3 linked regions of the Homo sapiens genome follow. The protein of the gene in region 1 purifies or fractionates together with the protein of each later gene. This does not show direct contact. Each region holds a gene or a part of one and is shown on either strand. Other genes may lie near its edges. The genes, in order: FBXO22, TAOK1 and HPN.

Region 1 (3,747 bases):
TCCTTAAGCAGCTGCGCCTATAAATAGACTATGGGAAAAAACTGGCTGGGCTTGGTGGCTCATACCTGTAATCTCAACGCTTTGGGAGGCGGAGGCAGAGGGATGTCTTGAGGCCAGGAGTTTGAGACCAGCCTGGGCAACATAGACCCTGGGTCTACCAAAAAAAAGAAAAAAACCACAGCTACTCAGGAGGCTTATGCCACTGACAATGTCATACTATCCACCAGTGGGGGAAGGAGGATTTGGGAAATAATTGTTTTCCATAAAAATATTTCGTTAATGTATAACATCGGTTTTTTAAAAAGAGTTAAGCATTAAGATGTTCTGATTTAATTTTTAATATGGTAAATATTGATAGTCATAACACACATAAACTATTGGTCGTGTCAATATTTTAGGGTGTAAAGGGTCCTGAGGCCATAATGAGAACTGCTAATTTAGACCAAGTTTCTGCCCAAGATCTGGCGATCAAATCAGGGCTCCCTTAGGAAGGAATTGGCGGGAGGAATGGATGTTAGGTGGGGACAAACCTGTGTCTGCTGTGCTTCCATTTCTTGGTGGTTCTCAGTTTGAGCATGCATCAGAATCGTCATAAAGTGTGTTAAAACAGATTGCTGGGCCTCACCCCCAGTGTCTGATTCAGGAGGTCTGGGATAAGGACCGGGAATGTGCTAAAACTTAGTAGTTTCCAGGTGAATCTGATGTCCCTGGCGGGGAACTGGTGCACAGCTTGGGGCGTGCTTCACAGCAATCATCTCACTCAGCTACCTTAGAATGGCAGGTGCTATTTATGCCATTTTACTCATTCGAAACTTTAAACCTGAAGATTACAACGAGTTAACTAAGTTTACAAGGAATAAAGGCAGTGATTTTCACACACTAAGACAATTTTTTAAAAGCAAACGTCCGTTTATAAATCGAGCTTATGCTATTTAAACAGGCATTGGGACTACGAAGAGCAATAAGTACTACCTAGTCCCTGCAAGGAATTTGTGAATTAGAGAAAGATGTAAACTCAGAAATATGGCGGTGCCAGGGCAGTGAGAGGCACAGGCACAGAAGAAGAATTTATTTTCACTGCAGGAGGCCTCCTAGAAAGTTGCCAGGAGCGGTGGCTTATGTCTGTAATTCCAGCACCTTGGGAGGCCCAGGCGGGAGTATCGCTTGAGCCCTGGAGTTTCAGACCAGCCTGGAAACCCGTCTCTACAAAAAATACAAAAATTAGCTGGGCGTGGTGGCGGGAGCTTGTAGTTAAAGCTACGAGGGAGGCTGAGGCGGGAGGATCGCTTGAGCCTGGGAGGTAGAAGCTGCAGTGAGCAGAGGCCGCGCCACTCCACTCCCGCCTGGCCACAGCATTAGACCCAATCTCAAAAATGAAGAAAACAGTTCCGAGCGTATTACGGAACGGAGTACACCTCGGAGTACGGGCTCCAGACGAGGGAACGCACCGGCGTTGCCACGCCCACCTTCCCCGTCCAGCCGGAAGTGGCGCGGACGCCTGCTCAGTGCGCGCCGGCCGGGCAACCCTATGCTGGCGTAATCGGGTTCCTCCGAGCCGCCGTAGGACTGGTTCCGGCGGGCTGGTGAGGAATGGAGCCGGTAGGCTGCTGCGGCGAGTGCCGCGGCTCCTCCGTAGACCCGCGGAGCACCTTCGTGTTGAGTAACCTGGCGGAGGTGGTGGAGCGTGTGCTCACCTTCCTGCCCGCCAAGGCGTTGCTGCGGGTGGCCTGGTGAGGAGAGGAGGCGGAGGCGGGAAGCTTGCCTGGGGACACGCCGTGGGCATGTCCCAGGCTGGCGGGGTGGGGGGAGAGACCCTTGGGACCCACCAGGGCCGTCCCCGGCTCGCTCGCCCTACCTGAGGTGACCCCCTACCCGCGAGGTATCTCCCAGCCGTGGTGCCCCGGGGGGACTTCCCTGAGGGGCGAAGTTCCCCTTAAGGTTTTCTCCATATCTGGCTCTTCTTCCGAACTAGCGCCCTGACTGACACCTACCTACCCCGGGGACTTTGGATCCCGCAGGGATCTCCTGCTGCTGCGCCAGCGGGTGGGGGTTTGTGAGCTGTGGGAGAGACGAAAATGAACGTCCGTTCGCAATCCTTTGTGCGTTTGCGTCCTCAGCGTGTGCCGCTTATGGAGGGAGTGTGTGCGCAGAGTATTGCGGACCCATCGGAGCGTAACCTGGATCTCCGCAGGCCTGGCGGAGGCCGGCCACCTGGAGGGGCATTGCTTGGTTCGCGTGGTAGCAGAGGAGCTTGAGGCAAGTAGCAAGGGGTGTCATGCACAGTCATTTGCAGGTTGGTGGTTCAGTCTTTGAGAACTATTTTTTTTTAAATCCCAGTTTTGTTAATTAAAGGAACATCTCGTTCCGTGAAAAGATTTTGTAAACATCAGTTTTAGTGACTACACGGTAAGGATGTGTCATGATTTATTTGACCGTTCATCAAATGTTGGGCCTTTTTTTTTTTTTTTGAGACGTAGTCTCGCTCTGTGGCCCAGGCTGGAGTGCAGTGGCGCGATCTCGGCTCACCGCAAGCTCCGCCTCCCGGGTTCACGCCATTCTCCTGCCTCAGCCTCCCGAGTAGCTGGGACTACAGGCGCCCGCCACCATGCCCAGCTAATTTTTTGTATTTTTAGTAGAGATGGGGTTTCACCGTGTTAGCCAGAATGGTCTCGATCTCCTGACCTCGTGATCCGCCCGCCTCGGCCTCCCAAAGTGCTGGGATTACAGGCGTGAGCCACCGCGCCCGGCATGTTGGGCCTTTTAAGTATCCACATTTTCACTATTAACAACAACGCTGTGCAGAACCTTCCCTTCACCTGCTTCCCTTGAAGCAACTTTTTGTTGTCTGTTTTACCGGGAAGACAACTGGGTGTGTCTTGCTCAGTGAGCACACCTAGAAAGCCAAGAACCAAAACTTAAAGCCAAATATTTCAACTTCTGATCCTGTACTCTTTTGCTTCTCTGGCCCCCAACTTCAAAAGGGGAGCCAACACCAGGAGAGATGAAGACTCGAACTGTGGAGTCAGAGGGGCTGCAGGGTGTACCATCTCTGGGGAGTGGAAGGGAACCATTTGACAGTAAAGTGCCAACCTGCTGCTCTGTCACTCTGTTTACTTTAGTACGGCTTACAGACAGACATAACTACGGTGCAGCCGTCACAATCAGGAAATTATCACTGATACATTTCTACCATTTTATCCTCAGACTCGGTTCAGATTTTGCCAGTTGTCCCAGTAAGGTTCTTCATGGCAAAAAGATCTGTTCCCAATTGCAATTTGCTCTGAGTAAGTCCTGTTTCTTTAATCTCCTTTGATCTGGAACAGTTTCTCAAGCTTTGCTTGATTTTTCCCAATCTTGACACTTAGGAAAATCACAGGCTATTTTGTAGAACATCCATCAATTGTGTCTTTGGCAGGAAATAATCACAGAAGTGATGCTGTGCTTTTTTCACGGCATACTTTAGGTGGCATGTGATTTCCATTCGTCTTGTTATTGGTGGTATTACCTTTGATTACTCAATTAAGGCGATGCTTGCCAAGTGTCTTCACTAAAATCACTCTTCTACTGTAATGATTGTTTTGTGAAGAGATCATTTGAAACTATGTAAATATCGTGTTTCAATTCATTTATTTATTTATATCTGTACACTCTCGGAGTCTTATTTAATTCAGTGGGATATAATCTGTTACTGTATTTTGGTGCTCAAATTACCCCTCTCACCCCCTAGTTTGGCTAGTAGGAGCTCCT
Region 2 (3,647 bases), on another chromosome or scaffold:
CTGTAATCCTAGCACTTTGGGAGACCGTAGATCACTTTAGGTCAGGAGTTCAAGACCAGCCTGGCCAATGTGGAGGAAACCCGTCTCTACTAAAAATACAAAAAATTAGCTGGGCGTGGTGGCGTGTGCCTGTAATCCCAGCTACTTGGGAGGCTGAGGCAGGAGAATCGCTGGAACTTGGGAGGTAGTGGTTGCAGTGAGCTGAGATTGTGCCACTGCACTCTAGCTGGGCAACAGAGTACAACTCTGTCTCAAAAAAAAAAAAAAAAAAAAAGGGCTGGGCATGGTGGCTCACGCCTGTAATCCCAGCACTTTGGGAGGCTGAGGCGGGTGGATCACCTGAGGTCAGGAGTTGCAGACGAGCCTGGCCAACGTGGCGAAACCTCGTCTCTACTAAAAATACAAAAATTAGCCGGGCGTGGTGGCACTTGTCTGTAGTCCCAGCTACTCGGGAGGCTGAGGCAGGAGAATCATTTGAACCTGGGAGGCAGTGGTTGCAGTGAGCCAAGATCGTGCCACTGCATTCCAGCCTGGGTGACAGAGTGAGACTCTGTCTCAAGAAAATAATAAAAAAGTTAAAAAATGGCTGGGTGCCGTGGCTCACGCCTGTAATCTCAGCACTTTGGGAGGCCAAGGTGGGCAGAACACAAGGTCAGGAGTTCGAGACCAGCCTGGCCAGCATGGTGAAACCCTGTCTCTACTAAAAATACAAAAAATTAGCCGGGCATGGTGGCGCGCACCTGTAGTCTCAGCTACTCAGGAAGTTGAGGCAGGAGAGTTGCTTGAACTCAGCAGGCGGAGGTTGCAGTGAGCCGAGATCGTGCCATTGCACTCCAGCCTGGGCAACAGAGTGAGATTCCGTCCCCCCCCAAAAAAATATATATATATATATACATGTATACATGTATATATGTATATTCATGTATGATACATGTATACATGTATACATGTATATTCATGTATGCATACATGAATATACATGTATGTATATACATATATACACGTATATATACACGTATGTATATATGTATACATGTATATTCGTGTGTATATATGTATATTCATGTATGTATATATGTATATACATGTATATATATGTGTATATATATATATGTATGTCACCATTTACTAGTGTAAATGTGTAACTTTTTCAGTTTTTGTTTTTTTGAGATGGGGTCTTGCTGTGTCACCCAGGTGGGAGTGCAGTGGCACAGTCATGGCCCATAGCAGCCTCTACCTTCAGGGCCGAAGCCGTGAGTAGCTGAGACTGCAGGCCTATGCCACCATACTTGGCTTATTTTAAAGTTTTTTTCGAGAAACGGGGTCTCTATGTTGCCCAATCTGGTCTCAAACTCATGGGGGCTCAGGCAGTCCTCCCTCCTCAGCATCCCAAAGAGCTGGGATTACAGGCATGAGCCACAGTACCAGGCCTGTGGTAACTTCTTTATTTAACTATTTATGCCTCACCTTTTCTTTTCTTTTTTTTTGAGACGGAATTTTGCTCTTGTTGCCCAGGCTGGAGTGCAATGGCATGATCTCGCTCACTGCAACCCCTGCCTCCCAGGTTCAAGCGATTCTCCTGCCTCAGCCTCCCAACAGCTGGGATTACAGGTATGCGCCACCATGCCCAGCTAATTTTTTGTATTTTTAGTAGAGACGGGGTTTCTCCATGTTGGTCAGGCTGGTCATGAACTCGTGACCTCAGGTGATCGCCTGCCTTGGCCTCCCAAAGTGTTGGGATTACAGATGTGAACCACTGCGCCAGGCTTCTTTTCTTTTCTTTTCTTTTCTCTTTTCTTTTCTTTTTTAGAGATGGAGTTTTGCTCTTGTTGCCCAGGCTGGAGTGCAATGGCGTGATCTCGGCTAACTGCAACCTCAGCCTCCCAGGTTCAAGTGATTCTCCTGCCTCAGCCTCCCGGGTAGCTGGGATTATAGGCATGTGCCACCATGCCTGGCTAATGTTTTTGTTTTTTTAGTAGAGACAGGGTTTCACCATGTTGGCCAGGCTGGTCTTGAACTCCTGACCTCAGGTGATCCACCCACCTTGGCCTCCCAAAGTGCTGGGATTACAGGCGGGCATGAGCCACCACACCCGTTAATGTGAAGATAGTATATACTGGGTTGTTTAAATAGGATAATGCTTGCTAAGTACTTAACTTACTGCCTGATACATGCTAACACTCAATAAATTGTTGGCTATCACACACTAGCTGCCTAATATAAATGTTTATGAGTACATTGAGATAATTTTTTTTTTTTTTTTTTTGAGACAGGGTCTCACTCCTGTCACCCAGACTGGAGTGCAGTGGCACGATCTCGGCTGCCTGCAGCCTTGACCTCCCAGGCTCAAGTGATCCACCCACCTTTGCCCTCCAAGTAGCTAGGACTACAGGCAAATGCCACTGCCTGGCTAATTTTTGTATTTTTTGTGGAGATGGGGTTTTGCCATGTTGCCTGGTCTGGTATCGAACTCCTGAGCTCAAGTGGTTCCACCTGCCTCAGCCTCCCAAAGTGCTGGGGAGAGTCTAATATTTAAGGATGAGTTGCATTATATAATTTTGATTTGATATTGGATTTATTTTTATTTATTTATTTTGAGACGGAGTCTCGCTCTGTTGCCCAGGATGGAGTGCAGTGGCACAATCTCGGCTCGCTGCAACCTCTGCCTGCCCTGTTCATGCCATTCTCCTGCCTCAGCCTCCCAAGTAGCTGGGACTACAGGCGCCCGCCACTATGCCTGGCTAAATTTTTGTATTTTTATTAGAGACGGGGTTTCACCGTGTTAGCCAGGATGGTCTTGATCTCCTGACCTCGTGATCTGCCCGCCTTGGCCTCCCAAAGTGCTGGGATTACAGGCGTGAGCCACTGCGCCTGGTGATATTGGATTTATATATCTGGAGTCTGACATACATTTTTGAAAGAAATAGTTAGAATATCAAGGTAGCTTAGTAACTTTTTGCACCTATAATGGACTACTGTGTAGTACTTAATGGGAGTTTTTTTCTTTCTTTGGGATAGATTCTCGCTCTGTCACTCAGGCTGGAGTGCAGTGGTGAGATCAAAGTTCACTACAGCCTCAATCTTCTGGACTTAGCGATCCTCTCACCTCAGCCACCTCAGCAGCTAGGACTACAGGCGTGCACCACCACACCTGGCTAATTTTTTTTTATTTTTAGTACAGACGAGATCTCACTATGTTGCCCAGGTTGGTCTTGATCTTCTGAGTTTAAGTGATCCTTCTGCCTTGTTCTCCCAAAGTGGTGAGATTATACACAGGAGCCACTGTGCCCACCTCTGATGGGAGTTTTTAATTTATCACAGGTTTTCTTTTTCCTTTGCTGGATATAAAGCCTGTCTTAAGAAATGACATTTCAGGCCGGGCGTGGTGGCTCAGGCCTGTAATCTCAGCACTTTGGGAGGCCGAGGTGGGTGGATTGCTTGAGGTCAGGAGTTCAAGACCATCCTGGCCAAAGTGGTGAAACCCCGTCTTTACTAAAAACACAAAAATTAGCTGGGTGTGGTAGTGGGCGCCTGTAATCCCAGCTACTTGGGAGGCTGAGGCAGGAGAATCACTTGAACCAGGCAGAGGTTGCAATGAGCCGAGATCGCGCCATTGCACTCCAGCCTGGGAGACAAGAGCAAAACTC
Region 3 (3,747 bases), on another chromosome or scaffold:
AGCAGGACTCCCCTCCAAGACCAGCCCGGAGCTGCCAGGGAGGCACCAGAGCCCACTTTGTGTCTGTTTCTCTTTGTACCCAGGCCATCTCTGTCCATTCGGGCATTTTCTGCTTTTCTTCCCTGGCTCATTCACCCATGGGCCCAAGCCCTGGGGCTGTCCTTCCGGCAGCTCCAGGAAAGAGATTGTCCCCAAGGAGCTGGATTCTGTCATCCACCTGCTCGGCTAGGGTGCAATGCCTTCTCCTGAGTAACTGGGAGCCTGGGTTCCCTCTGGACTGCAGCTGATTGGTTTGGGGTCTGAATTGCCAGCTGTGCCGAGACCCGAGGAGGCCAGAGATCTGAACTAATCATTTCAGCCAACACGCTCAGTGCTTCCTGCCCATCCTGGCATTTCAGGCCTCGCCCCACGCTGTTGGACATGCACTGTCACCCTCTCCATTTCACAGATGAGAGAATGGAGGCCCAGGGAGAACACGCCGTCTGCCCAGGGCCACACAGCTAGAAAGTGCTACTGCCCAGGACTGAGCCCGGCTATCCTGGTTGCGGAAGAAGAGAGGGAGTCAGCCCCAGCTAGGGGAAGGCAGAAAGAACAGGACGCCCCTCCATGCGCCCCTCCAGCTGGGTCCCATGTGTGAGAGGTAGAAAGGAAGCCAGGCTAGCTGGGGGCTGCCCAGAGACTCCCAAGGGCCAGCAACTCCATGACGCAGTCTCTCTCTCTCATCCTTATGGTGGTTTCTCTGCCGTCTCTCCCCTCTCCATCCATCCAGGCCCAGTCCAAAGTCCTCCCTCTGCTCTTTTGCCCACAGAGCCAGGAGGTGGAGGAATGTCTGGGATCGGTGGGGGTCCTGGGTCTCTGGGACTCCGAGTTTGCCAACCTCTGTCATGACAGCTCTGCTTGATGGCATGCGTCTTATATGCAGAGCCCCAGACCAGTGCCTGGTGTGTGTCATGCACTCAGCAACCTCACAGAGGGAGGACTGGTATCCATGCTTGACCCAGAGGGAGACCAAAGCCCTAAGAATAATGTCACTTGCACCAGATCACACAGCAAAAAAGATGGCAAGAGCAAATTCAAATGCAAGCCTGTGTGTTTCACTCCAAATCTGTGTCCTTAACCATGACAGCTACAGCTTCCCCGCCTCAGCCCCAGCAGAGGACAAGTCCAGAGTTAGCTGAGAAATCACTGGGGGATGAGGGGAAACTGAGGCAGCACGCCAGGAAGGTCACATAGGGTAGAAGGGAGGCTGGTGGTGGCACAGCTGCACAGAAAATGTGGTTAATAGTTAATCAGGTGGAGGAGGACTAACAGGGGTGGGGATGCATCTGGGAGGGGTGCCCAGAGAGAGGGGGCTCCGAAGAGTAGAGGGTAGAGAAAAGAGCACAGAGGGCGGGGCGCCAGGCAGAGCCAAAGCTGGGGCTCAGGGAAGGGGACTCACCCTCCTTCTGCGCCATGTCACTGCCTCTTGTTAATGATTCCCTGGCTGACCTCCTGGGCCAGGGTGGGACCTGTGAGGAGATGGACGGGGAGGCAGGGCCTGGGGGAGCCCAGCCCAGCCCAGTCCTGGCGCCCCCAGTCCCAGGCGTCCATCCAGGCAGGCTGTAGGGACTGGGCCTTGGCCAGAGCACGCCGTGATCACGGACGCAGATTGGGCTGGGTTCAAGGATGGGGTCAGTGTCTGACCAGCAGCGGGGGGACGCCTGGATTTGCAGGGATGGGGACCCCCATGCCTGAGCCTGGTGGAGCAGGGGACTGAGGATCCCGGTTTGAGGGAGGAGACAGCTGAGGACCTGAAATCATAAGTCTTGGGAAAGGAGGAATTTGGGGGCCAGGACTCCCTAGTATGAGGGAGGAGGGGCCTGAGGGCTGGAACTCCTGGGTCTGGGGAGGAAAGGACTGGGGTCCAACGGCTGAGTCTGAAGGAAGAGCAGGACAGAACACCTAGGTGCTTGGGGGGACGTCATAGTGCCCCCTCTTCAGGTCCCCAGGAACCCCTCTATTAGGAGGTGGGCATTAGGCTGGGTGGGGGGATGAGGGAACCCCTGTCCTCAGGGCTGGAACTGTGAGTCTGGGGGCCCTTGTCCTTACCCTGGGGTCCAGCAGGTGGGGGCGGAGCCTCGAGGTAGTGCCGGGGTCGGGTCAGTCTCCAGGCCTGGGCAGGAGCATGGTGGCCCCGCAGCAGCGGGCGGCCTGGAGGCAGAGGCGGTGGCGTGGGGCCTGCTAGGCCAGGCTGCCTCACCTGAGGAGGAGGGGGCTGGGCGAGGGGCGGGTGAAGGGGCGGGGAGGGGCCGGACCATTCGATTGGCAGCACTGGAGGCCACCTGGCTGATGGGGCCGGGCTTGTGGGGGCTGGACCAGGCGGGCCCAGCTACGGGGCTTGCCTTGGACCTCCAGGGGGACCCAGGTGTGCCTGTCTGCGGGGATGTGGGAACAGGGACAGGCCTGGCCGGAGGCTGGGGGTTTAGGGAGAAAGTGCAGGCTGAAGGGTGGGGGTCTGACCAGAAGAGATCAGATGGAGGGCCCCAGCTGCCCTAAGCCCACTCCACCCTCACCCAGCGAACCCTTCCCCCCGCCCTTTCTGCGTCCTCCAGCCCCAGGTCCTGGCTGTGCCCGCCACTTGCTGCACCTCTGCCTAATTCCCTGCCCAATTCCTGGGCCCCAACCCCAGCCCCAGCCTCTCCCGCCTGCCCTGCTCATCCTGCCCCGGCCCCTCCCCCGCTGGCTTCCTACAAGTCACGGGGCTGGTTTGCTTTGGCAGCCTCCGCCCGGCCGCGGTGACCTCTGGAGCCAGAAAGTCCTAGCACTAGATAGGGGGGATGGGGGGCTTGGCCGGGAAAACACAGCGCTAAGGGCAGAGGCCCAGGCCAAGTGGCCGGAAGCGTCCGCAGGCAGATAACACACTGTCCCGCCAGCAGCCAGGCGCGGCCCACGTCAGACCCAGGGCCAGGTAAACACCAGACGTGCAGGGTCACCGCCAGACACCTGCCCGTGCTCAACCACACGCCGGACACAGTCGGCCTCGGCTGCTTGCCCCAGATAGGCCACCCGCACAACCGGCCCCACCCGCTTACCCACACGTGCCCGCTGTGCCCAGCCAAACCCACCTCCACCGCACCCATTTCCTCCACTCAGCCCAGGGCCCCTCATTGGGACACGCTGGTTTAGCCTGGCTTCCTCTGCCTTTCCATCCATACCCGTCTCTCCTTCCCTCTCCTTCTCCCCAGCGCCCACCTCTCCAGAGACTCACACTGCTGGGCACACCACACACCCCATGCCACCCCTGCACCCCAGCATCAGCCTCGATTCTCTTCCCTCCACGGCACCCCCTCCCTTCCTGGCTCCGTTCCACTCTCCCTCACCCCTGAGCCCATGGCTCCCCCAACCCCGACACAGATCAGGCACTAAGTGGCTTCACCTGTGGGCCCTCAGGTAGGGTCCCTGGAAAGCGGGCTCGAAGATTCGGGGACGGGAATGGGGGGAAGGTGACGGGGCTCACAATCGAAACTATGCATCAAGTCCAAGAGTCTTTATTTCATGAACAAAACTACTTCTGTAAAGAGACGAGGCTGAATGGGCCCCTTTCTAGGTGGCCACAGTTCAAGGCTGGTGAGAGAGGGCGAGGTTGGGCCGGGGCAGGAGTGCATTACAGGGAGGGGGGACCCCAGGTCCAGCCGGAGGAAGCGGGAGGGGAAATGATGCCGGGGAGGGGGAGTCGGAGTGGGTCCCAGAACCCCCTGCCCCAAACTG

What was found.
Region 2: the proteins of FBXO22 (region 1) and TAOK1 purify together in Homo sapiens (affinity purification with mass spectrometry, with the first as the bait; one study listed by BioGRID). This does not show direct contact.
Region 3: the proteins of FBXO22 (region 1) and HPN purify together in Homo sapiens (co-immunoprecipitation; one large-scale study listed by IntAct). This does not show direct contact.

Annotation. Positions count from the first base shown.
Region 1 is NC_000015.10:75,902,374-75,906,120, forward strand, and holds the start of FBXO22 (F-box only protein 22), read left to right. Parts: upstream 1-1,504; 5' UTR 1,505-1,590; coding exon 1,591-1,730; intron 1,731-2,117; coding exon 2,118-2,256; intron 2,257-3,202; exon of another isoform or gene 3,203-3,284; intron 3,285-3,747. UniProt on the Homo sapiens protein: Substrate-recognition component of the SCF (SKP1-CUL1-F-box protein)-type E3 ubiquitin ligase complex that is implicated in the control of various cellular processes such as cell cycle control, transcriptional regulation, DNA damage repair, and apoptosis.
Region 2 is NC_000017.11:29,396,738-29,400,384, forward strand, and holds part of TAOK1 (serine/threonine-protein kinase TAO1), read left to right. Parts: intron 1-3,647. UniProt on the Homo sapiens protein: Serine/threonine-protein kinase involved in various processes such as p38/MAPK14 stress-activated MAPK cascade, DNA damage response and regulation of cytoskeleton stability. Phosphorylates MAP2K3, MAP2K6 and MARK2.
Region 3 is NC_000019.10:35,040,214-35,043,960, reverse strand, and holds the start of HPN (serine protease hepsin precursor), read right to left. Parts: upstream 2,241-3,747; 5' UTR 2,089-2,240; exon of another isoform or gene 1,509-2,088; 5' UTR 1,455-1,508; coding exon 1,439-1,454; intron 1-1,438. UniProt on the Homo sapiens protein: Serine protease that cleaves extracellular substrates, and contributes to the proteolytic processing of growth factors, such as HGF and MST1/HGFL. Plays a role in cell growth and maintenance of cell morphology.